Linked DNA regions of Homo sapiens: all the other regions are linked to region 2. The links come from fine-mapping of genetic effects on gene expression. A gene starts in region 2. Each other region holds a variant in brackets. All regions are shown on one strand. Distances are between the middles of the regions. Region 1 overlaps LOC124904784 (a long non-coding RNA gene). Region 2 holds the start of ZNF264 (zinc finger protein 264). Region 3 holds the start of AURKC (aurora kinase C).

The links. PIP is the estimated chance that this variant, and not a neighbour inherited with it, causes the effect.
Region 1: its variant is fine-mapped to the expression of ZNF264 in whole blood (INTERVAL, PIP 0.98).
Region 3: its variant is fine-mapped to the expression of ZNF264 in whole blood (TOPMed, PIP above 0.99).

The regions. Positions count from the first base shown.
Region 1 is chr19:58,171,424-58,179,602 of GRCh38, forward strand. LOC124904784 (a long non-coding RNA gene) reads left to right here. Exons shown (of 2, transcript XR_007067360.1): 2 at 5,114-6,166. Among named protein-coding and RNA genes, the nearest start is that of ZNF274, 7.5 kb to the right of the region's middle. The variant A/G (reference allele first, on the strand shown) is at 4,201.
Region 2 is chr19:57,186,644-57,194,813 of GRCh38, forward strand. ZNF264 (zinc finger protein 264) reads left to right here and starts at 4,857. Exons shown (of 4, transcript NM_003417.5): 1 at 4,857-5,303; 2 at 7,232-7,358. The coding sequence starts at 5,271. RefSeq lists enhancers at 4,693-4,752, 4,773-4,862, 4,873-4,932 and a silencer at 5,103-5,372.
Region 3 is chr19:57,223,389-57,231,558 of GRCh38, forward strand. AURKC (aurora kinase C) reads left to right here and starts at 7,635. Exons shown (of 7, transcript NM_001015878.2): 1 at 7,635-7,918. The coding sequence starts at 7,861. The variant A/G (reference allele first, on the strand shown) is at 4,491.

The DNA of each region.
Region 1 (8,179 bases), 980 kb after region 2:
GGGATTACAGGCGCCCACCACCACGCCCGGCTAATTTTTGTATATTTAGTAGAGACGGGGGTTTCACCATGTTGACTAGGCTGGTCTTGAACTTCTGACCTTAGGTGATCCACCCGCCTCAGCCTCCCAAAGTGCTGGGATTACAGGTGTGAGCCACCACGCCCGGCCAATATGGCTCAACTTCTTTCAAGAGACTGGGCTTTTTTTTTCTGTATTAGTTTCCTATCACCACTGTAACAAATTACTACAAACTCAGTGTCTTAAAACAAGAGATAAGAGAAATATTAAAGTAAGACAAATAGATTCTCTCATTTCTGGAGGCCGGAAGCATGAAATCCATACCTGGGCCAAATTCAAGCCTTGGAGGCTCCAGGAGAGAATTCATTCCTTGCCTCTTCCAGCTTATGGTGGCTGCTGGCTTTTTTTTTTTTTTTTTTGAGACGGAGCCTTACTCTGTTGCCCAGGCTGGAGTGCAGTGGTGTGATCTTGGCTCACTGTAATCTCCCCCTCCCGGGTTCAAGCGATTCTCCTGCCTTAGCCTCCCGACTAGCTGGCATGACATGCGCATGTCACCACATCCAGGTAATTTTTGTATTTTTATTTTTAATTTAATTTTATTATTTTTTTATTTTTTGAGACAGAGTCTTGCTCTATCACCCAGGCTGGAGTGCAGTAGCACGTCTCAGCTCACTACAACCTCTGCCTCCTGAGTTCAAGCCAGTCTCCTGCCTCAGCCTCCCCAGTAACTGGGGTTACAGGCGTGCAACACCACGTCCAGTTAATTTTTAAATTTTTAGTAGAGACAGGGTTTCATCATATTGGCCAGGCTGGTCTCAAACTCCTGACCTCGTGATCCACCCCCCCTTGGCCTCCCAAAGTGTTGGGATTACAAGCGTGAGGTACCCCGCCCGGCCTATTTTTATTTTATTTTTTTATTTTTTTGAGAGGGAGTCTTACTCTGTCACCCAGGCTGGAGTGCAGTGGTGTGATTTTGGCTCACTGCAACCTCCGCCTCCCAGGTTCAAGCAATTCCCTGCCTCAGCCTCCTGAGTAGCTGGGATTACAGGCGCCTGCCACCATGCCTGGCTAACTTTTGTATTTTTAGTAGAGACGGGTTTTCACTATCTTGGCCAGGCTAGTCTTGAACTTCTGACCTTGTGATCCACCCGCCTCAGCCTCCCAAAGTGCTGGGATTACAGGCATGAGCCACTGTGCCCAGCCAACTTTTGTATTTTTAGTAGAGACGGGGTTTCATCATGTTGGCCAGGCTGGTCTCAAACTCCTGGCTTCAGGTGATCTGCCTGCCTCGGCCTCCCAAAGTGCTGGGATTACAAGCATGAGCCACTGCGCCCGGCCTGCTGGCATGTTTTGACTTGTGACTGCACAGCTCCAGTCTCTGCCTCCACGGTCACATCACCTTCTCCTTTTCTGCCTATGTGTGGTCACATCTGTCCCTGCCTCCCTCTTGTAAAGATACATGTGATTACATGCACAATCCAGGATCATCTCCCCTCTCAAGATCTTTAAATACATATGCAGCCCCTGTCTCTACATAACGCAACATTCATAGGTTCCAAGAATTCAGGCCTGACATCTTTGGGGGACATTTTTCAGCCAAACACACTCTCCTAACTTTTAATCAAAGTCCTGGGCTTCACTCTCCGTCCATGTTCATTGCTTTGACACTTGTCATGGACAGGAGGGTGCCTTGCACTGACTGGCTTGGACCAGAGTGCTTGCATGCCCCTGGATTAATCACTGCAGCAACGGAGACAGAATGAGGCCAGTGGGCCATCCACTGGAGCTGAGATTGAGGGGCAGCTTCACCCATAGCTGCCCAAAAGGGTATCTGGGGTGTTCTGAGGGTGTTCTGGGGTGTATCTGAGGAAAGGGATGAGTGGAAAGGTCTCACAAATGAATCTTTTTTTTTCTTTTTTTTTGAGATGGCGTTTCACTCTTTTTTGATGGGCATTGCCCAGGCTAGAGTGCAATGGCGCGATCTCAGCTCACCACAACCTCTGCCTCCCGGGTTCAAGTGATTCTCCTGCTCAGCCTCTCCAGTAGCTGGGATTACAGTCATGTGCCACCACGCCTGGCTAATTTTGTATTTTTAGTAGAGATGGGGTTTCTCCACGTTGGTCAGGCTGGTCTGAAACTCCCGACCTCAGGTGATTTGCCCACCTCAGCCTCCAAAAGTGCTGGGATTACAGACGTGAGCCACCGCGCAGCCTCACGTGAAAAAGACTTTTCTCTCAATTTCACAATCTGTCTCTCTGTCTCTCTCTCTCTGTCACGTTTTGAAATTCTGGCTTCCCTCCTATACCCAAGGGAGAGCTCACACTTCTCCCTTACCTGAGCGAAATGCCATCTTTCCCTTCCAGCACCCCATTCAATCCTCCACCAGGGTCCCCATGTCCTGGTAGCTGCTCCCTGGATGTTGGGACTTCACTCAGTTCCATTTTTTTTTTTTTTTAGGAGACAGGGTCTCACTCTGTTGCCCAGGCTGGAGTGCAGTGGCCTGATCATAACTCACTGCAGCCTTAATCTCCCGGGCTCGAGAAATCCTCGCACCTAAGACTCCTGAGTAGTTGGGATTACAGGCACATGTCACCATGCCCAGCTAATTTTTAAATTTTTTTGGTAGAGATGGAGTCTCACTATGTTGCCCAGGCTGGTCTTTAACTCCTGGCCTCAAGTGATCCTCCTGCCTCAGCCTCCTAAAGTGCTGGGATTGCAGGCATGAGCTGTTGACCCTCAGTTCCAGATCTTTGCTGGCAGCAAGTCCGGAAACTTCCATCCGGATCTGGTTTGTGGCCTTATAACTTAATGTGAGGAGAGGTCTCTGGGGTAGATGGGCTCCACCCAAGCAGACTTTTGTGCCAGCTACTGTGGCTGTGCCACCCACCTTCATTGCAGCACAGTCTGGCGCCTTCTACAGATGCCAAAAAAACCAGTTACACTCTTTTCCAGCTTTTCTCCCAGCCAGGACATGGATGCATGTGTCAATCCTGGCTAACAGGGTCAGAGCGAGTCAACAACAGAGAAGTCTTCCGAAAATGTTGTATTACTTTTTTTTTTTTTTTTTTTTTGAGACAAAGTCTCACTCTGTTGCCCAGGCTGGAGTGCAGTGTCGCGATCTCGGCTCACTGCAACCTCCATCTCCCAGGTTCAAGCGATTCTTCTGCCTCAGCCTCCTGTGTAGCTCGGACTACAGGCGCGCACCACCACACCCGGCTAATTTTTTGTATTTTTAGTAGAGAAGGGGTTTCACCGTGTTGACCAGGCTGTTCTCGAATGCCTGACCTCGTGATCTGCCCGCCTCAGCCTCCCAAAGTGCTGGGATTACAGGCGTGAGCCACTGCGTCCGGCCAAAATGTTGTATTACTTCTTTGTGGTAGGGAGAGTAATGCCCCCTTTCCTTCAGAGATGTCCTCATTCCAAACCCTGGAACCTATACATATGTTACCTTCGCATGGCAAAGGGGACATTGAAGATGCCATTAAGGATCTGTTTTTGTTTTAGAGACAGGGTCTCACTCTGTCACCCAGGCTGGAGTGCAGTGGTGTGATCATGGCTCACTGTAGCCTGGAACTCCTGGGCTCAAGCGATCCTCCTGCCTCAGCTTCCTGAGTAGCTGGGACCACAGATGCATGCCACCACACCCAGCTATTTTTGTTGTTGTTAAGACACGGTCTTGCTCTGTTGCCCAGACCAGTCTCAAACTCCTTGGCTCAAGCAATCTTCCTGCCTCAGCCTCCCGAAGTGTTGGGATTACAGGTATGAGCCACCATGCCTGGCCAGATTCTTGAGATGGGGAGATTATTCTGAATTACTTGGGGCGGGCCCTATTTAATCAAATGTCTTTGTATAACTTGAGGCAGGAATCAGAGTAGATGATGTGATGATGGAATGAGAGATTTGAAAATGCTACACTGCTGGCTTTAAAATTGGAGGAAGGGGCCATAAGCCAAGGAAGGCAGGTAGTCTCTAGAAACTGGAAAAGGCAAAGAAATGGATTCTCTCCTAGACCCCCCAGAAGGACCACAGTCCTGCTGACATCTTTATTTTAGCCTAGTAAGACCCATTTTGGACTTCTGACCTCCAGAGCTGTGAGACAATAAATTTGTTGTTGTTTTAAGACACAAAGTTTTGGTAATTTGCTACAGTGGCAATAGAAAGCAAATACACTTCCTGATGCCA[A/G]CTTCTTCAGCCAAATGTTGCACGGCTAAATGCTAGACTTGGAACTGTAATCACCATCTTAGGACTGCAAAGACGTGTGCCTCAGAAAGAACCAAGGCCATACACTGGGGAGGGCTGAGCCAAAGGAGGGACAGTGACTGGTTACAGCTCATACTTGAGCCCAGGGGTCAACCGTAGAAGCCCTTACATCTGGATTTAATTACATTTTTTATTTTGTAATTTTTAGTTTTATTTGTGCTGAGACAGAGTCTCTGGAGTGTAGTGGTGCGACTACAGCCTCAACTTCCCAGGCTCAGGCGAACCTCCCACCTCAGCCTCCCGAGTACCTGGATTACAGGTGTACACCACCACACGCAACTAGTGTTTTGTTTTCGTAGGGATGGAATCTCACACAAAAAACTGGGCAAGTATGTTCCCCAGGCTGGTTTTGAACTCCTGGGCTCAAGCAGTCCTCCCACCTTGGTCTCACAGTGTTGGGATTACAGGCATGAGCCACTGTGCCCAGCCTGGACTTAATGAAAAACAAACAAACAAACATTTTTTTTGAGTCAGTCTTGCTTTCTCACCCAGGCTGGAGTGCAGTGGTGTAATCTCAGCTCACTACAACCTCTGCCTCCTGGGTTCAATTAATTCTTATGCCTCAGCCTCCCAAGAAGCTGGGATTACAGGCATGCATCATCACACCTGGCTAATTTTTGTATTTTTAGTAGAGAAAGGTTTTTACCATATCAGCCAGGCTGGTCTTGAACTCCTGACCTCAAGCAGTCCACCCACCTCAGCCTCCCAAAGTGCTGGGATTACAGATGTGAGCCACTGTGCCCAGTCAGTGAAATTTAAGATCATGAATGGTGGCATACTGTCACTTCTGCCAAAACTACACCTTACATGATAACCCTTTCTTGCTCCCCACCAGCTTTTGCTCTCAAGTCTCGTTTGGTCATGCTAAGCCACAGTTTGGGGACTCCTAGGAGCAGCCATCACAGGTAACCAGTTCTGCTGGCTCAGGATGGCCCCTGCTGCCCTGACTCAGAGACACTTCCTGCAAGGCAGACATCTCATGCAGAGCAGAGGCCACTGCAGTCAGAAGGAAGGGCCTGGTAGCCTCAGAGGCACAGCCAAGGGGCTGCAACGATGGAAAGGAGATATTCCACAAGTCCAAGAGTGTGACATGGAAGCACACTCTGGGATGTGGTGGACTCAAGTGATCCATGCAGATGTGGATGCTGTCTCTCTTTCTCTGTTCATAGAGTGTGGCATGGGTCCTCTCTGGGTGAAAATAGGTGCCCAGAATTAATCACACACTTCCATTCAAAATAAACTGTGCCAACTTGCTGAACCACAAAATGATTTCCTCGCCATGGCCCCTAAATAACTCCGTGATAAGAACTGTATGCTATTGATGGCTCTGAAGTCCAAATTTATTGGCAAAAGCAAAGAACATGCCTGAACTAGTCATTTCTGCAGGCGTTTCTCCTTAAGATGAGTTTGAAGCCAATTGGTTATGTGAAGAATAGCAATCAGTTCTTTCTCACACTGGAGGAGGAGGAAGCACAAAAGAAAGTTCAAGGGTCAAGCCTCCCAAAAGGCTCTGTTATAATCCTATGTGCTCTTTCATTGTATCTAGTGATGAATTTGGGTAACTGACACTTTACTCATTGGCCATCTATCCTTGAACTTGATAAGCATTTTCATTTATGTAAGTTTACTTGTAATTCTTCCAAAACTTATCTTCACATTTCCCAACAAACTAATTTCAGACATTTTGTTTTTATGATTCTATTGTGACAGGAACCTCCATTTCAATATACTTGTTGCAGGTATAGATTTTGTGCATTGCTTTGTGGTGTTGATTTGTCCATCTTTTGTATTCTGCCTAGCTTATTGTAATCTTGATTTTTAAAGTTTTCAATTGGGTTTTTAAAGTATGTTAATGTTAATAAATGCATTTTTAGGTTTCCTTTCCCAATCATTACAGCACTCAGGTCTATTTCATATCAGATTGATTGATTTATTAAGACAAGGTCAAGCTCTGTCGCCCAGGCTGGAGTGCAGTGGCATAATCAGGGCTCACTGCAGCTTCAACTTCCTTAGCTCATGATCCTCCTACTTCAGCCTCTTGTGTAGCTAAGACTACAGGAGTGTGTCACCACATCCAGCTACATTTTTTGCTTTAATACAGATGAGGTTTTGCTACGTTGCTCAGGCTGGTCTTGAACTCCTGAGCTCAAGTGACCCTCCCGCCTTGGCCTCCCAAAGTGCTGGGATTATAGGTATGAGCCTGGCCTCATACTTTATTTGTAGTAACAAGAATATCTGGAAAATGTTCAGCATTGCTGAGAGCAGATTTCTGTCATTTTCGATGTGTGTATCCTCCACGGTTATTGAATGGAGGAATAAACAAGAAAAAGACTCAAGAAGAGAGACAGGAGTCAGTTCTCATCAGAGAAGAAAAGGTCGATTTCCTAAGGCAGGAAATATTGAGATGGGTTGTGTTCAGGACTAGCAGGAGGTGTGTGGCTGGCTTGTTCCTTGTCTACATCCTAATGGCCTAAAGAAAAGATGCCCCACACTAAGGACAGCAAGAGGGAAAGAGTGAGCCTCATCCTCCGTGACTTCAGTGGGCAGCTTAACCAGCACCAGAAAAGACCTATACTTGCAGATTTTCTTTGTGGGAAAACGGCGTTGGTTATTTGGGTTTTTATTTATTTCCAACCAAACATGCCTTAACGGATACAGGGTGCAAAGGCATGTACTAGATTATTCCAAACCTGCCTCACTGGTTTGTCCGGCATTCTGTGGACTTCCTGCATTCCTCTTTGAGGCAGGCCGTTTTCTGGAGGTTGTTTGTGATCGGCCTCTGCTCAGAGCCCAAATTCTTAGCCTTTCCCCCATGTGTTATGTCCAGTGTGGATTATCTTGATGGTGAGTTTACCTTTGATGTTGGGGAAAACAGGCAAAGAATGAATGAGCAGCAGTAACCAAAGAGCCTCTTTTCTGGGAAAAAAGCTATGATATTAATAATTTATAGTTCAAATGCACATTAATTTATCCATACTTCTGTAACCTTACATTCCCAAGCTCTCAGAAGTTCAGAGAGGTGTCCTCAAAGCTCACATTTCAAAGATGGAAAGACACATCTTTCTTCTTTTTAAAAATGATTTTAAAATGTATCCCCCTTTACATGGAACAATTTGAGATGCTCTGTGTGATGAAACAGAGACAGAGAATGATGAGTGGAGATCAAATCCTGGGTCCATGATTCAGTTGCACAGCTGGCTTAGGACTCAGTTGAACACCACTAGCTGCCATAATGGTCCAGCTGCCATAATGGTTTGGGCCAACTTATAGCTTTACATATTTTATTCTTAGTCATATGTTGTTTATTTATTATTTATTTATTCATTTATTTATTTTGAGATGGAGTCTCGCTGTGTCACCCAGGCTGGAAGGCAGTGGCACAAACTCGGCTCACTGAAAGCTCCACCTCCTGGGATCATGCCATTCTCCTGTCTCAGCCTCCCGAGTAGCGGGGACTACAGGCGCCCGCCACCATGCTCGGCTAATTTTTGTATTTTTAGTAGAGACGGGGTTTCACCATGTTAGCCAGGATGGTCTCGATCTCCTGACCTCATGATCTGCCCACCTTGGCCTCCCAAAGTGCTGGGATTACAGGCGTGAGCCACTGCGCCCGGCCATATGTTGTTTAATTTAAACCAACAGTAGACCATTGATTTAAAAAAGCATATGGGGCCAGGGGCAGTGGCTCACTCCTGTAATCCCAGCACTTTGGGAGGCCAAAATGGGCAGATCACCTGAGGTCAGAAGTTCGAAACTAGCCTGACCAACATGGTGAAACCCTGTCTCTACTAAAAATATAAAAATTAGCTGGGCGTCGTGGCATCTGCCTGTAATCTCAGCTATTAGGGAGAATGACGCAGGAGAACCGCTAGAACCCGGGAGGCAGAGGCGGAGGTTGCAG
Region 2 (8,170 bases):
GGTGGGCGGATTATGAGGTCAGGAGTTCAAGACCAGCCTGGCCAACACAGTGAAACCCCATCTCTACTAAAAGATATAAAAAATTAGCCAGGCACAGTGGCGGGCACCTGTAATCCTACCTACTCAGGAGGCTGAGGCAGGAGAATTGCTTGAACCCAGGAGATGGAGGTTGCAGTGAGCCAAGATTGCAACACTACACACCAGCCCGGGTGACAGTGCCGAGACTCTGTCTCAAAAAAAAAAATTATTGTGGAGGAATGGTCTCACTATGCTGCACAGGCTAGTCTCTTAACTCCCGGCCTCAAGAGCCGGGTCTGTCCTGTAGACCCTGGCTGAGCGATGGATGAAAGGAGTACTCAGACACAGGTATGTAGTGTAAGAGCAGCTAGGGGACTGCTGAAGAGTGAGCAGTCTTGATAAGCTGGGACTGCTTGCTTTTATTCAGTACAGACATAATGCCAAAAGCCTGGAGCCAACACAGTCTGTGGGTAATTAACATTATTGTTCCCCCTTTTGGGGGCAGCCTCACTCGTGAATGATCAAATGTTGGTTCCTAGTTAACATAAGTAAACAAGCCTGTTTATGTTAAATTCCCCTACACTTCCTTGTACCTACTCCTTGCCCTCTGCCTTAGGGTAAGAGAACAGCTGCTTTCAGCTTATTCTCCCGTGAAGCTATGCAGAGACTTCTGACCTTTCAGAAGGTTTGCGTCCTTTTCTTATAGCTTCTCCCACCACTCTGACCGATCTCCTACACTCAAGCAATCCTCCTTCCTCAGCCTCCCAAAGTGCTGGGATTACAGGCATGAGCCACCGCACACCACCCCCATTTCTTGCAGTAAAATATGTGTGTGTGTGTGCGCGTGTGCGCGCGTGTGTATTCCATTTCTCCCTAATACCATTTCTCAGCTGCATGAATCCTTAACTCATGAAAGATACTTTTTATCCTCTTGACTCTACAGTTAATGGAAAATAAAAATCATCAATAGTGACTTCTAAGATTGCTTAATATACCTTTCTGGGAGGACAGTTAGAACTCCTAATGTGAGCTTGTCAGTTTCTTGTGAAAACCAACCCAGTTGTCCCATAGAACTGATGTTTGTGGTTTCTTTTGACTGAACCTAGAAATTGACCCTCCCACTCTTAAAACTTGAGAAAAGTACATTTGTCATAATCGTTTGTCACAGAAATAACCAAATTTCCTTGTCCATTGTTTTTTAACTATGGTTGTCCTAAGACTTTTGTCATCCACAATTATTGTTTGACTTTGAGTCTTCTCCAAAGGTGGCTTACAGTCAGCTACAGTTCAGGGCTTCTTTGAGAGAGTTCATAAAAAGAACACTTGAATTCAAGTTTCTGGTAACTTTGGAGATTGTCCTATCAGCCTAGAGAGAAAACTTCCAGGACTCTAATTAGAAGGCTGATATATTCATAAAATACATAATTATGTATACATATGTTTATGCAATATGAAGCAGAGCAGGAGTTTCATGGACTGTACTAATTTATTTCATGATAAATAAAAATATTTTATTATATAGTATATTAAGCCATCTTAGAAGTCACTGTTGATGATTTTTTTTTCTCCATTAACTGTGGAGCCAAGAGGGTAAAAAGTATCTTTCATGAGTTAAGGATTCATGCAGTTGAGAAATGGAATTAGGGAGAAATGGAACACACACACACAAACACAGAGATTTATTTCAAGTACTGAATTTATTTTATTATTTTTTGTGTGTGTTTGAAACATTGCTGATTCTTTTTGTTTTGTTTTTGAGTCAGGAGAACTTTTTTTGTAAATCTACTTTCTGTCTCTATGAAACTTTTTTCTTTCCAGCTATTTATAGCCTTTAACAATTGAATATACATTTGTAAACAAAATTTGAGGGCTATTTCTCTCTCTGCCTGATTTCTCCAGAATTCAGAAACTATTTGTGAATATTCTTAATTCACGGCAATGTGGTTGTTTGCATATGTTCAATAAGAATCTGTTTTCTAGCTAGGTGTAGCATATGTTCAATAAGAATCTGTTTTCTAGCTACTTGGGAGGCTGAGGCAGGAGGATCGCTTGAGCCCAGGAGTTTGAGGCTGTAGTGAGCTATGATCGTGCCACTACACTCCAGTCTGGGTAAACAAGCAAGACCCTATCTCTATTTTTTAAAATCCATATTATTTTATAACACAATTGTAGGCACTGGGTCTTTTCCCAAGGCTTTGACAGGAATGGCATATTTTTAACTATGCGAGACTGCTTTGAGGAATTAAGACTGACTTTATGGGCCAGGCGTGGTGGATCATGACTGTAATCCCAGCACTTTGGGAGGCCAAGGCGGGTGGATCACGAGGTCAGGAGATCGAGACCATCCTGGCTAACATGGTGAAACCCCATCTCTACTAAAAATATAAAAAATTAGCCGGGTGTGGTGGCAGGCGCCTGTAGTCCCAGCTACTCAGGAGGCTGAGGCAGGAGAATGGCGCGAACCCAGAAGGCAGAGCTTGCAGTGAGCTGACATCACGCCACTGCACTCCAGCCTGGGCGGCAGAGCAAGACTGTGTCTCAAAAAAAAAAAAAAAAAAAAAAAAAAAGACTGACTTTATGGAGCTGATGGGAGCCCTTGGAAGGACTGGCCTCATATCTTGTGCACACAGTTCCTTTGTGGGGTTCCTGGCCTGTAGTAAATACAGTGTCATTTTCTGATAGGCCTAGGAACCTCAAGATGTTCTGGGGCCTCAAGAAAAACGGGTTTCACCCAATTCATGCAGGTATGTACAGGTGCAGACAGATCTTTGGCTGGGCTTAAGAGGTCTTTGGGTGTTGAGTCTGAGAGATTCCTTATGAGGGGTTCCAGCAAAGCCAATTTAGGAGGAATTGTATAAACAGTGATTCTTGCTGTAGTTTGGATAAGTATGGTGGGACTGAAGCTTGTTTTGCAGGTAAGTTGTTCCTGCTGTGATTTGCTTTTGATGGAAGTCAGGGACTAGAGAGAGAAAAACTGTTTCCAAAGAAAACTATAGTGCTGCCAGGTGCAGTGGCTCAACTTTGGGAGGCTGAGGTGGGCGGATCATGAGGTCAGGAGTTTGAGACCAGCCTGGCCAACATGGTGAAACCCCGTCTCTACTAAAAATACAAAAATTAGCCAGGCATGGTGGTGGGCACCTGTAATCCCAGCTACTCGGGAAGCTGAGGCAGGAGGATCGCTTGAACCTAGGAGGCAGAGGTTGCAGTGAGCGGAGATCGTGCCACTGCACTCCAGCCTAGGTGAAAGAACAAAACTCTGTCTCAAAAAAAAAAAAGAAAGAAAGAAAGAAAACTATAGCGTTAGATTAACCTTTGAGTTAATCTGAGTGGCCACGTGGTCATCTATGGTATGCAGCCACCCACAATACCCCTCCTCAGCATAAAGCAGCCAGAAAGATCACGTCCAGATTCCCCATGATTGAGGAATTGATAAATAGAAACAGGGAACTGAAACCAGCTCCAGTGTCCCATAGAACTGATATTTATGGTTTCTTTTGAATCAACACATTATAGACATTGAGCCTCCCCTTCCTAAAACTCGAGACACTTTTATTTGTCTTATCTGATTTCCTTTCTCAGGAAACCAAGCATCAGGCCTCCCAGATAGTATAAAGAAACTGAAACTTACTGGATTACCACATCTGGAAAAACGAGATGCTATACCCCTTACCCATGATGATTGCCTAACTGACCATCTGCTGCCTGTTGACCCATTCCTCTTCCTTACCCCTTCCTAATTCCTGTTTTCTCAAACATAGTTACACTTCTTCCCTGATGTATAAACCCCTAGTTTTAGTCAGTTGAGGAAAGAGATTTGAGATTGATCTCCCATTTTCCTCAGCTGCAGCACCGAATAAAGCCTTCATCCCTGACAATACTCATTGTCTTGCTGACTGGCCTTCTGTGCAGCAAGCAGCAGGATCTAGATGCAAGGACCTGGCCTTTCTGGTAATATTGTCATCAACCATTTAATGATGTAGACTTGGTCCCCGGCTCATGCTCTGTGTATTTTCTTCTCCATCTACATGCATTGCCTTGATGGTCTCACTCAATATCATGACTTGAAATAACAGTGTAAGGTAACTCCTAAATTCATATATTCATGCTCAAACCTTCTTCCAACATTCAGTCGTAAGTCGAATTGCCTGTGACAGAGATACTTTGTGGTTCTGTAGACATTTCAAACTAACCATCCTGAGCCTCCGAACCTCCTCCACTTGCAGCCTCCCCACCTCAGAAGTGGGCAAATCCACTTTTTGTGTGGTCTGGGCCAAATACATGACTCCCTGCATCACGTAGAGGCTGTGCTGGTCCAAAGAAGGCTCAAAAGAGGGCAGTTTGCGCACACAACGTGTCGGGGCAGGGCTTCCAGATGATCATTCGGCTTTTTTGTGTCTTCCAAGATGATGATCCGGGGAGGAGGGATGTGAAAGGGGGTCAGTCGCCAGGCGAGCTGAGGACCCAGTTCTGCGCCTTTGCCTGTGCCCTGACCTGAAGGAAAGTCCCTGTCTCCCGAGCTCCGATTTTCCCGAGAGAAGAATGCAATGTAACCCTTGCCCCTCGGTTCCCTCCCTCCATCCTTCCCCTCGAGTTGTGCCCACCGTAAAGAGGTGGGTCTGGAGCGTCTCCTCGGGTCCTGGAGTGCCTTTCCCTGGGAGGAAAACTTGCGCCGTGAAGCGTTCCTCCCGTTGTTGAACACATGAGGAAAACTACACTACTTAGAAGGCTGTGCATTATGCGTACGGCGGGAGCTGGGCCAACGACGGCCTAGGACGGGGACGTTTCCGACGGCTCACGCCGGTGGGGGCGGGACTTCCGGGTTGCTCGCTGCGGACGCCATTTTCTTCTGCACTTCTGTCTGGAGAGGTCTGTAGCCACTGAGGGCCCCGGTCGGGGCCGCTTTGCAGGTCCCTAGTCAGGACCGAGCAGGGGAGTAGGATAGGAATCCCCGCCGCACCTTTGTACGAGCCTGACCCCTTCCGTGGGTTTGTTCCTGGGTCGCCGTCAAGCTGCGGTCTCTCCTCCCCCGCCCTTCAGCCCCGCGGTCTCCAGGGGCGGCGCCCTGGGTCTGGAACGCGGTTGCCACCGAGGAGGCGGCGGCCCTGCGTCTGGAACGCCGTTGCCACCGAGGAGGCGGCGGCCCCGAGCGCGCCTGGAAGCCCCGGGCAACCGGCCAGGGTCGGGCACAGGTGGGGTCCGTCAGGCCGCCCGGGGCTCCTCTGTCCCAGCTCTGCGGCCCAGGGGGTGACGTGATGGCGGCAGCGGTGCTGACGGACCGGGCCCAGGTGAGTGGACGGTGGCTTCGCGGTTGCCGCTTCCTTGCCAGCGCTGAGGCGGTTTCCGAAGTGGGTGGGAGCCCAGGTATCCCCTGGATTTGTCTTCGCAGTCGTCGTTCGCTTTGGTGTGTGGAGCTGGTTTGCCACTTAATTTATACCTGGCCGTAAGGAGTGTTGGGCCTACTGGAAGGAGCTCCGTAGGTTGTTGAGTGAATGATGCTTCCTCTGGGGACTCCCATCATCCTTGGCCTGCAAGCATTCTCTGGTGGACCAGGTCTCATTCCAGCATGAATTGGGGGCCTGAGGGGGGAAGGGGAGGGCAGGGCAGTAGCAAGCCGACAAATGCGCGAGCAGAGACAAGGTATGTTGTATGTTTAAGGAGGCTCAGGAGGGTGTGTAAGGTTGCCATGGTTTTCCTGCGGCCGCTGAGACGTGGAGGGCAACAGTGTGTGGTCTTTTCCTGGATGTTCTAGCCATCCGCAACTACTGCAGACATTGTGGCCAGTCAGATGCCCTTACTCTCATCGCTACAGCCTGCATTATCCTTGGCCGCTCGTGTTCCGTGGCCCCAAAGTATCCTGGCGTCAGAGACAAGTTCTGTCGGAACCCAGTAAGGAAAGAGGCCGATGGTTGGTTCATTGTGGAATTTCCTTGGGGGATCTGGGAGACCCAGGGAGATCCCAGAGGGCATGGGAAGCTGGTCTGGAGCCTGTCGTTCCCCAAGTAGATGCAGCCCTTCCAGTGCCGCTCTGTGGGGTCAGTGAGGAATGCTGAGCTTTTTGTGCCCGTGTTCACATACTTTTTTTTGTTTTGAGACAGGGTCTCACTCTGTCGCCCAGGCTGGAGTACAGTGGTGCACTCTCAGCTCACTGCAGTCTCTGCCTCCCAGGTTCAAGCAATTCTCCTGCCCCAGCCTGCCGAGTAGTTGGGATTACAGGCATGCACTACCACACCTGACTGATTTTTGTATTTTAGTAGAGACTGGGTTTCACCATATTTGCCAGGCTGGTCTTCAACTCCTGGCCTCAAGCGATCCGCCCACCTCGACCTCCCAAAGTGCTGGGATTACATGCATGAGCCACCATGCCCGGCCCACAGATACGTTTTTCAGGGCTAATTGAAATAGACTTAATGTTAGAAATGAGTGGAAATGCTTATAACTTCATCGCATTAGATTTGCTTTGATGTTGGGGGAGTGTTGGAGTTACACTGTTAGACCGTGAATCATAGTAACCCCATGTTTAGATCCTATCTATGGTGGTGAGATGTGTGACTGGGTGAATTGATAGCGCTTCCTTAGCATGAAGTCATTGACTGTGAAGGTGATGATGGTGTTGACTGCAGGGACTGTGAAAGGATTAATAAAAATCCCAGAGCACACTGAGCATTGAATACTTTAAATTTAACAACTGTTACTGGTGGGAAGTGTTATTGTATTGATCCAGAAATCAAGGCTCAGAGAAATGAAATGCTGTCTTTGAGGTAAGAGCTGTCAAGTGTCAGTTTCAAGTGTTTGGAGCTAGGAACTTCTAGTCACTGTGTTTACACAGGATGTGAAGCCTTCAACATGGGGCAGGCACCTAGCTGGACCAGTGAGACTCAGGTACTGCCGTTGTAACCATTATTGCTATTATTACCATTTCCCCATTTCCCTGTCGTTTTAGAGCCCTTAGCTTCTGTATTTCACAGTCCACAAGTTGTTTCCGTTGTCCTGTGTCATTCTCTAACGGCCGTTAAATAGGAGGCTTCTCTCCTTTACTCTGGTATTATGTTAAAAGCATCTATCTTCCCTCTTGAGCCCAGCACAGAGCTAGGCCCTCAGGAGGTGCTCTGTGATTCAGGCCGCCATCACTGTACACCTTTTCCAGTGGAGCACAGTCTGTGATCTCATTCAGCAGCTGAAAGGCCAATACTACTAATTCTGTTTGACTTTCCAGGTGTCTGTGACCTTTGATGATGTGGCTGTGACTTTCACCAAGGAGGAGTGGGGGCAGCTGGACCTAGCTCAGCGGACCCTGTACCAGGAGGTGATGCTGGAAAACTGTGGGCTCCTGGTGTCTCTGGGTAAGGCCTTCCTTCCCCCTCCACCATGCAGGTGACCTGCCACTTCCTTCATTCCATCTTCTGACTCCAGGCCTGGCTGCACAAGAAGGCCTCTAGAATCTACCTTGCCTCTTTCCCACAGCTTTAGTCATTTTCCACAGTAACCTCTTCCTATCTGGTCTCCTATATCTCTGGGCTAAAGACAGGGTACTCTTTGGCTCCCAGCCAAAGGAGAAGGTGGTAAAAGGAAATGGGGTGTTTTGCAAACTCAAAGGTAATTTTCAGCTGTGCCTCATGAGGGGCTGGTGTAGGAACTGAGAACCACCACGATGGTGTCCTGGCTTCTCTGTCTGGGTCTGCTCATGTCACGTCTATTCTCTATGGCTTTTTCTGCCTTAGTGAGTTCAAGACAAGAGTGGCCACCTGGATTAGGGTTCTCTAAAGGGACAGAACTAATAGAATAGATATATATAAAAAGGACAGTTTATTAAGTAGTAATAACTCATGATTACAAGGTCCCACAGTAGGCTGTCTGCAAGCTGAGGAGCAAGGAAGCCAGTCCAAGTCCCAAAGCTGAAGAACTTGGTGTCCAATGTTCGAGGGCAGGAAGCATCCAGCATGGGAGAAAGATGTAGGCTGGTAGTCTAGGCCAGTCTAGTCTTTTCATGTATTTCTGCCTACTTTATATGCTGGCCTCGCTGGCAGCTGATTAGATGGTGCCCACCCAGATTAAGGGGGGGGTCTGCCTTTCCCAGCCCACTGACTCAAATGTTGATCTCTTTTGGCAGCACCTTTACAGACACACCCAGGATCAATACGTTGCATCCTTCAAT
Region 3 (8,170 bases), 37 kb after region 2:
TTGCCAAAGACAGTTGAGGGGTAGGGCTGTGGAATGGCTGGTTTGCATGTGACAGGCAAGATAGCGGAGGAGAAATACCCTCTTGAGTAAGGGTTACGAGCCATGGGCCTTGTGTTGACTGGCCAGGTGACTTTAATGAAATTTTGTCACCCAGGCTGGAGTGCAGTGGCACATTCATAGCTCACTGCAGCCTCAATCTCTCGGGCTCAGGTGATCCTCCCGCCTCAACTTCCTGAGTAGCTGGGATTACAGGTGCTTGCCACCATGCCCAGCTGATTCTTTTTTTTTTTTTTTAAATCTAGAGATGAGATATCTGTGTTCGAAACCCAGTCTGGTGTCGAACTCCTGAGATCAAGTGGTCCTCCTGCCTCAGCCTCCCAAAGTGCTGGGATTACAGGCATGAGCTACTTTGCCTGGCTCAGCATGTGTTTTTATTCTGATATTTTGACAAATGAGACCTTGCTGATCCTGGAGACACTGCTCCTCTTAGAGGTAGCAAAAGTCTCCTCCGCTTTTGCTAAGTTATGAATTGCTAAGCCAATTCATAACTTGTTTATTCTGCCTTACCCATTTCTTCACTCGAAAATGGCAATACAGCCCGGGTGTGGTAGCTCACACCTGTAATCCAACACTGGGCGCCCAAGGCAGGAGGCTCACTTGAGGCCAGGAGTTTGAGACCAGCTTGAGCAACATAGCCAGACCCCATCTCTACAAAAAAAAAAAAAAAAAAAAAATTCACGGGGCACAATAGTGCACACCTCTAGTTGCAGCTACTTGGAGGCTAAGATAGGAGTGTTACTTGAGCCTGGGAGTTTGAGGCTGCAGTAAGCTGTGACTGAGCCACTGCACCTCAGCCTGGACAACAGAGCAAGACCCTGGCTCTTTAAAAATAAAATGAAGAAATGATAACACAGGCTTTACCCACACTTTCCCCTTCCTCCTGTCTCCTAACCAACCGTGAGTCTTCCCTGTTTAGCCCTGTGTGGCTTCATATACCCCCTCTTCATGGGAACTATGAGTTACACACTCATCAGTGGCAGTCTTCTGATCTGTTGGCATCGTCAACGCTAAATAATAAAATCTACATTTTAAAAAACCTACCTGAAAGCACTCATGAATTTCAAGAATTTAGCAAAGCAAATCAGCCATTTCCATGTCATTTCCAAAGAACTGTGTCAGTGCACCAAGCCAAATGTGATACTTAGGTTGGAACTCAGTGGACAGCCATGGAAGGAGGAGGGGGTCAATGCCAAAGAGGGGCTCTCCAGATGCATTGGTAGGACCCAGGCGTTTGAGGGACCATTGTGTTAGCAAAATCTCAACCATCTGAGGGGTTGGGGTTTTTAGGAAGGTAGCTCCTGATGCCCTTCTCATAGCCCGACACTCAAGAAAGCTCAAGCACAACTAATTGAGGGCCCCAAATACACAACACCTTCCGATATCATTCTCCCCGGGCCACTTCTTAATGTTTGCAAGTTTGAAGGAAGAATGCCATCTCCCGGCCCGACCACATGGTGTTTTCTTGATTATCCTCCCTTTCATGGGCATCCTCCCTCCTTTCTTAAGCCTTTAGCCATTTGTAGCTGTGTGGTCTTTCAACATCTCTGTACTCTTGTTCTTCCTAGTTCCATGTCCTGGCTCTCAGGTATAAGAACTCACATATGTTCAAAGTGTGTCTCTTGATCTTTGAAATTAGGCTTCAGCAGTGACAGTAATCTTTTTTCATCTCAGTTTCTTGACTTTTGGCATACATGTCATTTCAGCCACCTACAAGCCTATTTTCCATCTGCATGTTCTTTTGCTGTGTGTGTGTGTGTGTGTGTGTGTGTGTTTGACATAGGATCTTAGGCTGGGCGCGGTGGCTCACACCTGTAATCCCAGCACTTTGGGAGGTCGAGGCAGGTGGATCACTTGAGATTAGGAGTTTGAGACCAGCCTTGCCAACATGGAGAAACCCCGTCTCTACTAAAAATACAAAAAATTAGCTGAGTGTGGTGGTGCATGCCTGTAATCCCAGCTACTCGGGAGGCTGAGGCAGGAGAAATGCTTGAACCCGGGAGGTAGAGGCTGCGGTGAACCAAGATTGCGCCATTGCACTCCAGCCTGGGCAACAAGAGTGAAACTCCATCTCAAAAAACAAAAAACAAAAAAAAAATAGGGTCTTCTGATCATGGCTCACTGCAGGCTCAGCCTCCCAAGTATCTGAGACTACAGGTGCACATCACTATGCCCAGCTAATTTTTAAATTTTTTGTAGAGATGGGGGTCTCCCTGTGTTGCCCAGGCTGGTTTCAAACTCCTGGGCTCAAGCAGTCCTCCTCCCCTGGCCCCCAAAGTGCTGGGGTTACAGGCATGAGCCACCGTGCCTGGTCTTCATCTGCATGTTCTTTTGTCATTTTCAAACCCTTTCTGAATTATCCTCACACTTCTTGAGTATCAGACATCACCAGTCTGATCTTCCATATGTCCCTATGTCTGTATGGGCTTCTCCAGCTTTGAGTTCTTTGTCTTTTCCTCACTCTCTTCCTCTAATGGAGGAGCCTCTTGGGGCTCATGTCACGCTCCCATTACCTCTTCCTTGTGTTATTTCTCTCCACGTCCCGCAACTCCCCTCTCCTTGTAAACTCCCCGGCTACAGCACCACGCTTTTTACCACTCTGGTGAAGGTCAGCAGTGGCTCCCTGTTTATGAATCCTAAGTCCTTGTCTTTTCTGGGCTATGGACAGGACTTGAAACTGTTGTTGTCCAGTCCTTTCTCCAGATGTACTCTTGGATTCTGTAAGGTTATGCTTCTGGTTTTCTCCCCTGCACCCTCTCACTCCTTTTCCCCTTTCATGTTGGTGCATCCACGTGTATCCAGCCATTTGGTGTTGAATTTTTTTTCTTTTTTTTTTCTCTTTGAGACAGAGTCTTGCTCTGTCTCCGGGCTGAAGTGCAATGGCATGATCTCGGCTCACTGCATCCTCCGCCTCCCAGGTTCAAGTGATTCTCCCGCCTCTGCCCCCTGAGTAGCTGGCATTACAGGCATCTGCCATTATGCCCGGCTAATTTTTGTATTTTTGTAGAGACGGGGTTTCACCATGTTGGCCAGGCTGGTCTTTAACTCCTGACCTCAGGTGATCCGCCTGCCTTGGCCTCCTAAAGGGCTGGGCTTACAGGCATGAGCCACCGTGCCTGACCGGTGTTGAAATTTCTAAGGCTTTGTCCCAGGCCTCTTTTTTCTCTTACTGGTCTCTCCCCAGGCCTCATCTGCACTCTTGGGTTCAGCTACCTACTTTAGTGAACATACCCTAAAACGTATTTCCCCAACCCTCATCTCATACAAGTCTTACTGCTCTCCTTTCACTCCATGCTTCCCTTTCCTTTTCCCACTCGAGATGGAGCTTCCACCACCTGCTTTGCCCAGTTAGCAAATGTGTATCCTTCATTTTGTCCCAGAGAGCACACCTTCACAGAAGCCCACTAGAGCACCCAGCTAGCTCATACCCATTCTTTCATGATTATCTATTGATTTGTTTGGTTATTGAATAATGACCGTATCCTGAACTCAATTTCCAGCTTCGAAAAAGCACAGACCTTGATCTAGATTTTCTCCTAATGTTCCATGTGCATAGTTTGTAGTCAATAGTATGTATTCAGATATTTGTTAGGTGAATGAGCCTTAATCATTTTTGACATTTTAGGTTATGTGACATTCTCTCCCCAGTACCACCTCAGGCTCGATGATTTGCCTGAAAGTCAAAATTCAGAAAAGAAAGTCACACACAACTCAGAAAAGCTGTTGTACTCATGGTTACAGTTTATTACCACAAAAGGATAGAGACCAAGATCACCAAAGGTAAAAGGCACATAGGAGGAAATCTGTGAGAAACCAGGCACAATTTTTTTTCTTTTTTCTTTTTCTTTTTTTTTTTTTTTTTTTTTGAGATGGAGTCTCGCTGTGTCACCCAGGCTGGAGTGCAATGGCACAATCTCGGCTCACTGCAACCTCTGCCTCCCAGGTTCAGGTGATCCTCTGCCTCAGCCTCCCAAGTAGCTGGGATTACAGGCATGTGCCACCACACTGGCTGATTTTTGTGTTTTTAGCAGAGATGGGGTTACACCATGTTGGCCAGGCCAGTCTGGAACTCCTGACTTCAAGTGATCCACCCGCCTTGGCCTCCCAAAGTGCTGGGATTACGGGTGGAAGCCACTGTGTCCAGCACAGGCACAAACTTAGCAGGTGTTCCCTCCCAGTGCAGTTGCACAAGGGCACACTGAATTCTCCCAGCAAAGTTGTGTGCAACACATTCACAGTATTGCCAGCCAGGGAAGCTCCCCCAAGCCTTGACGTCTAGAGTTTTCGTTAAGGGTCATTGAGGTAGGAATGCAGAACCCACATGAATAACCATAAATATCCAGTCTACAACCCTTGCAGAAAACAAACATATAGCATGGCCCAGGGCCTCATGCATGCAAAAGCCAGCATCCACCATGAATCATATTGTTAGC[A/G]TAAATTATCTGGTCAAACGTGCAGCAGGACCTACTTATGGTTTTCGACATAAAAATCTTACCAGGCAAGATACCCCAAGAGGTTGTTTTCCTGAAGTTGGCCCTAATTCATTCTAGGGTCAGATATCAGATAGCTGCGGACAGTGCCTGTGTCCTAAAACCTGCCAACATTATTCACAGTAGCAAATCCTATTCTGTTTATGCTGCCCCTGCCCTGCCTTGCCTTGCCTTTCTGGTGGAAAACACAGCGCAGGCTCTGGGCCTTGCTTTCTCCTCTGCTGCTGCTTTCTAACCTGCTCTGGTGCTTCCACCCGCATGGTGTGCTCTGCCTCCTGTTTCTAGGGATCTCTTACTATAAACTTCCTCCATAATAATCACTTCTGTATCTGATTGTCACACCCTGCCTGACTAAATACAATCCCAGGTATATTCTAGAATACACAGGGAGCCTATTACAACATCCTTGGGCCAGGCGCAGTGGCTCGCGCCTGTAATCCCAGCACTTTGGGAGGCTGAGGCAGGACTGCTTGAGCCCAGGAGTTCAAGACCAGCCTGGGAAATATAGTGAGACCCCATCTTTAAAAAGAATAAATTTTTAAAAATTGGCTGGATGTGGTGGCATGCACCTGTGGTCCCAGCTACTTGGCAGGCTTAGGTGGAAGAATTGCTTAAGCCTGGGAGTTCGAGGCTGTAGTGGGCCATGATGGTGTCACTGCACTCCAGCCTGGGTGGAAGAGTGAGACTTTGTCTCAAAACTAAAAATAAAAATATGACCTCCTTACTGTGGCCTCCAGGACACTACAGAATTCACGTCCATCTATCTCTGTGATTCAGTTTATCTTCAGCTGCAGCCATACTAACCTTGTTGCACTTCCCCAAACACGACAGGATCCTCCTGCTTTCATTCCCTTGTCTTAGGTGCTCTCTCTATGAGACCCTGTTACCTCAGATGCTCCATTCCTCCAAGTCCATGCTCAGATATAACTGTCTTTTAGACATTTCCCAACTACTCTACCTCCCTCTAACCTTCTATATTGTTTACTTTTGTGGTTGTGGTTGTTCTTTTTGAGTTACTGATTGTTGGAATTAAAAGGTCCCCGAGGGCCAGGGACAGTGGCTCACGCCTGTAATCCCAGCAATTTGGGAGACTGAGGTGGGTAGATCATCTGTGGTCAGGAGTTCGACACCAGCCTGGCCAAAATGGTGAAACCCTGTCTCTACTAAAAATACCAAAATTAGCCGGGCGTGGTGGTGTGCACCTGTAGTCCCAGCTACTTGGGAGTCTGAGGCAGGAGAATTGGTTGAACCTGGGAGGCAGAGGTTGCAGTGAGCCGAGATCGCACCACTGCACTCCAGCCTGGGCGACAGAGTGAAACTGCATCTCAAAAAAAAAAAAAAATTCCTCAAGTACAGGAATGCATAATTATTTTGCTATGTACATATCTGATTTTTTAGAGCAGTGCCTGTTGCAAGATAGGCACTCAATCGATACTCATTAAATTAACAATATACACATATATAAAACAGCACTTTCACATGGTTATGAGTGACCTAAGGAAAAACAGAACAGGATGACGTTGTAGTGGGGGCTGTTTTAAATTGACAGTTTGGAGCTGGGCGCAGTGGCTCACACCTGTGATCCCAGTATTTTGGGAAGCCGAGGCGAGTGGATCACCTGAGGTCAGGAGTTCGAGACCAGCCTGGCCAACATGGTGAAACCCTGTCTCTACTAAAAATACAAAAATTAGCCGGGCATGGTGGCAGGTGCCTGTAATCCCAGCTACTCAGGAGGCTGAGGCAGGAGAAATGTTTGAACCTAGGAGGCGGAGGTTGCATGAGCTGAGTTCGAGCCACTGCACTCCAGCCTGGGTGACAGAGCAAGACTCCGTCTCAATAAACAAACAAACAGACAGGTTTGGGAAAGCCTCTGAGAAAGGAATGGTTGGCCTGAGCTAAGCGCCATTACCCTGATCCACCTATTGTAACCACCTAATGGGTTCATTATTTTCCCTGCTCCCCAGATAGAGTCGACTTATCAAGACAGGATAATTGCAATAAAGGGTTTAATTCACATCAATCGAGCTAAATGAGAGACCAGAGTTTTATTACTCAAATAGGTCTCCCCAAATATTTTGAGACGAGCTTTTTTGTTTTTGGGTTTTTTTGTTTTTGTTTTTGTTTTTTTTGAGACAGAGTCTCGTTCTCCTTCTGTCGCCCAGGCTGGAGTGCAGTGGCATGATCTTGGCTCACTGCAACCTCCGCCTCCAGGGTTCAAGCGATTCTCTTGCCTCAGCCTTTTGAGTAGGTGGGATTACAGGCATGCGCCACCACACCCGGCTAATTTTTGTAGTAGAAACGGGGTTTCGCCCTGTTGGCCAGGCTGGTCTCGAACTGCCTACCTCAGGTGATCCGCCCGCCTCGGCCTCCCAAAGTGCTGGGATTACAGGCATGAGCCATCACGCCAGGCCTTCAATTATATTTCTGCAAGATATGTTCCCTGTCTAAAAGAATTCAATTTTTAATGTTTTTGAAACTTATGTGTTTGCTAAACAAATACGTGGGGGCTGATTTTACGATCTGAGGCCAAATCCACAAACTGATTACAGGGTCCAACAAATATTTGGCGAGTGGGAGGAGAGGGGTAAGTGAGCTGGACTGGTGGCGTCCTGGCTGTGAGCAGGCACAGCCGCAGGCTTCAGGGAGCCCCATCGCGGTGACCCTGGAGAGTGGCCTGAATCGGACGTGACCTTGAAGCAAGGTGGTTTTGGGGTCGCCGGCTGCACAAGGCGCGAAGTGGTTTAGGGTCACGGGCTGCACGAGGCTCCAGCACGTCAGGAGTGGGCGTCTGTTCATTCCCACGTGCATCGCGGCTCTCTCCTAGTTGACGCATGCACACCCCGTGGGTGTATGCGTTGTTCATTCCCACAACGGCCATCACCACCTCTCCGCACCCTCTGTCTCCTTCCTTCTCGGGCCTCACCCCTGGCCCTCGCTTTCAGTGCCCAGCCCGGACCGCAGCACTCCAGTTCCGCCCCAACCCGGGAACCCTGGACTGAGGCTCCCGTTTCTGTCCTTTCTATTGGGCGCACTTCCGATGGCGTCAGGAATTTCAGCCAATAGGAGCCAGCCAGGAAGTACCTCTCTGAGCGGTTGGTGCCGGGTATAAAAGAAGGCCGCGCAGCCACGGCTGCTCACGACGCCGCGGATCCCGAAGCCTGTGTAGCAGTGAGACATCAGTGAGGCTGCAGGACGAGCAGGATTGGAAGCGCCCCGGCCAGAAAGTGACCCCCCACCCCTTTCAGGACCCTGTGAACGGGAACAGCCATCCAGAGGGTTCAGGAAGGCGTCCGCGCCCTCACCTCTTCTCCCCATGAGCTCCCCCAGAGCTGTGGTGCAGCTGGGCAAAGCTCAACCTGCAGGCGAAGAGTGTGAGAGCCAGCGCCAGAGAAAGGACGCAGGGAAGGCTGGGGACTGGGCCAGGGGTCGGGTGCACAGAAGACACATGTGTTGACATCTCCCCTCCCTCTCCTCCTCCCCAACGCTCTTCTTTTCTCCCCACTCCCTCCCTTCCCTCCAATTCTTTCTTTCACCTCTCCCTCCCCTACTCTCTCCTCCCCTTCCTTTCTCTCTGCCTCTTCTTCACCTCCTCCTCCCCTCCCTACCTTACCTTACTCTTTCTT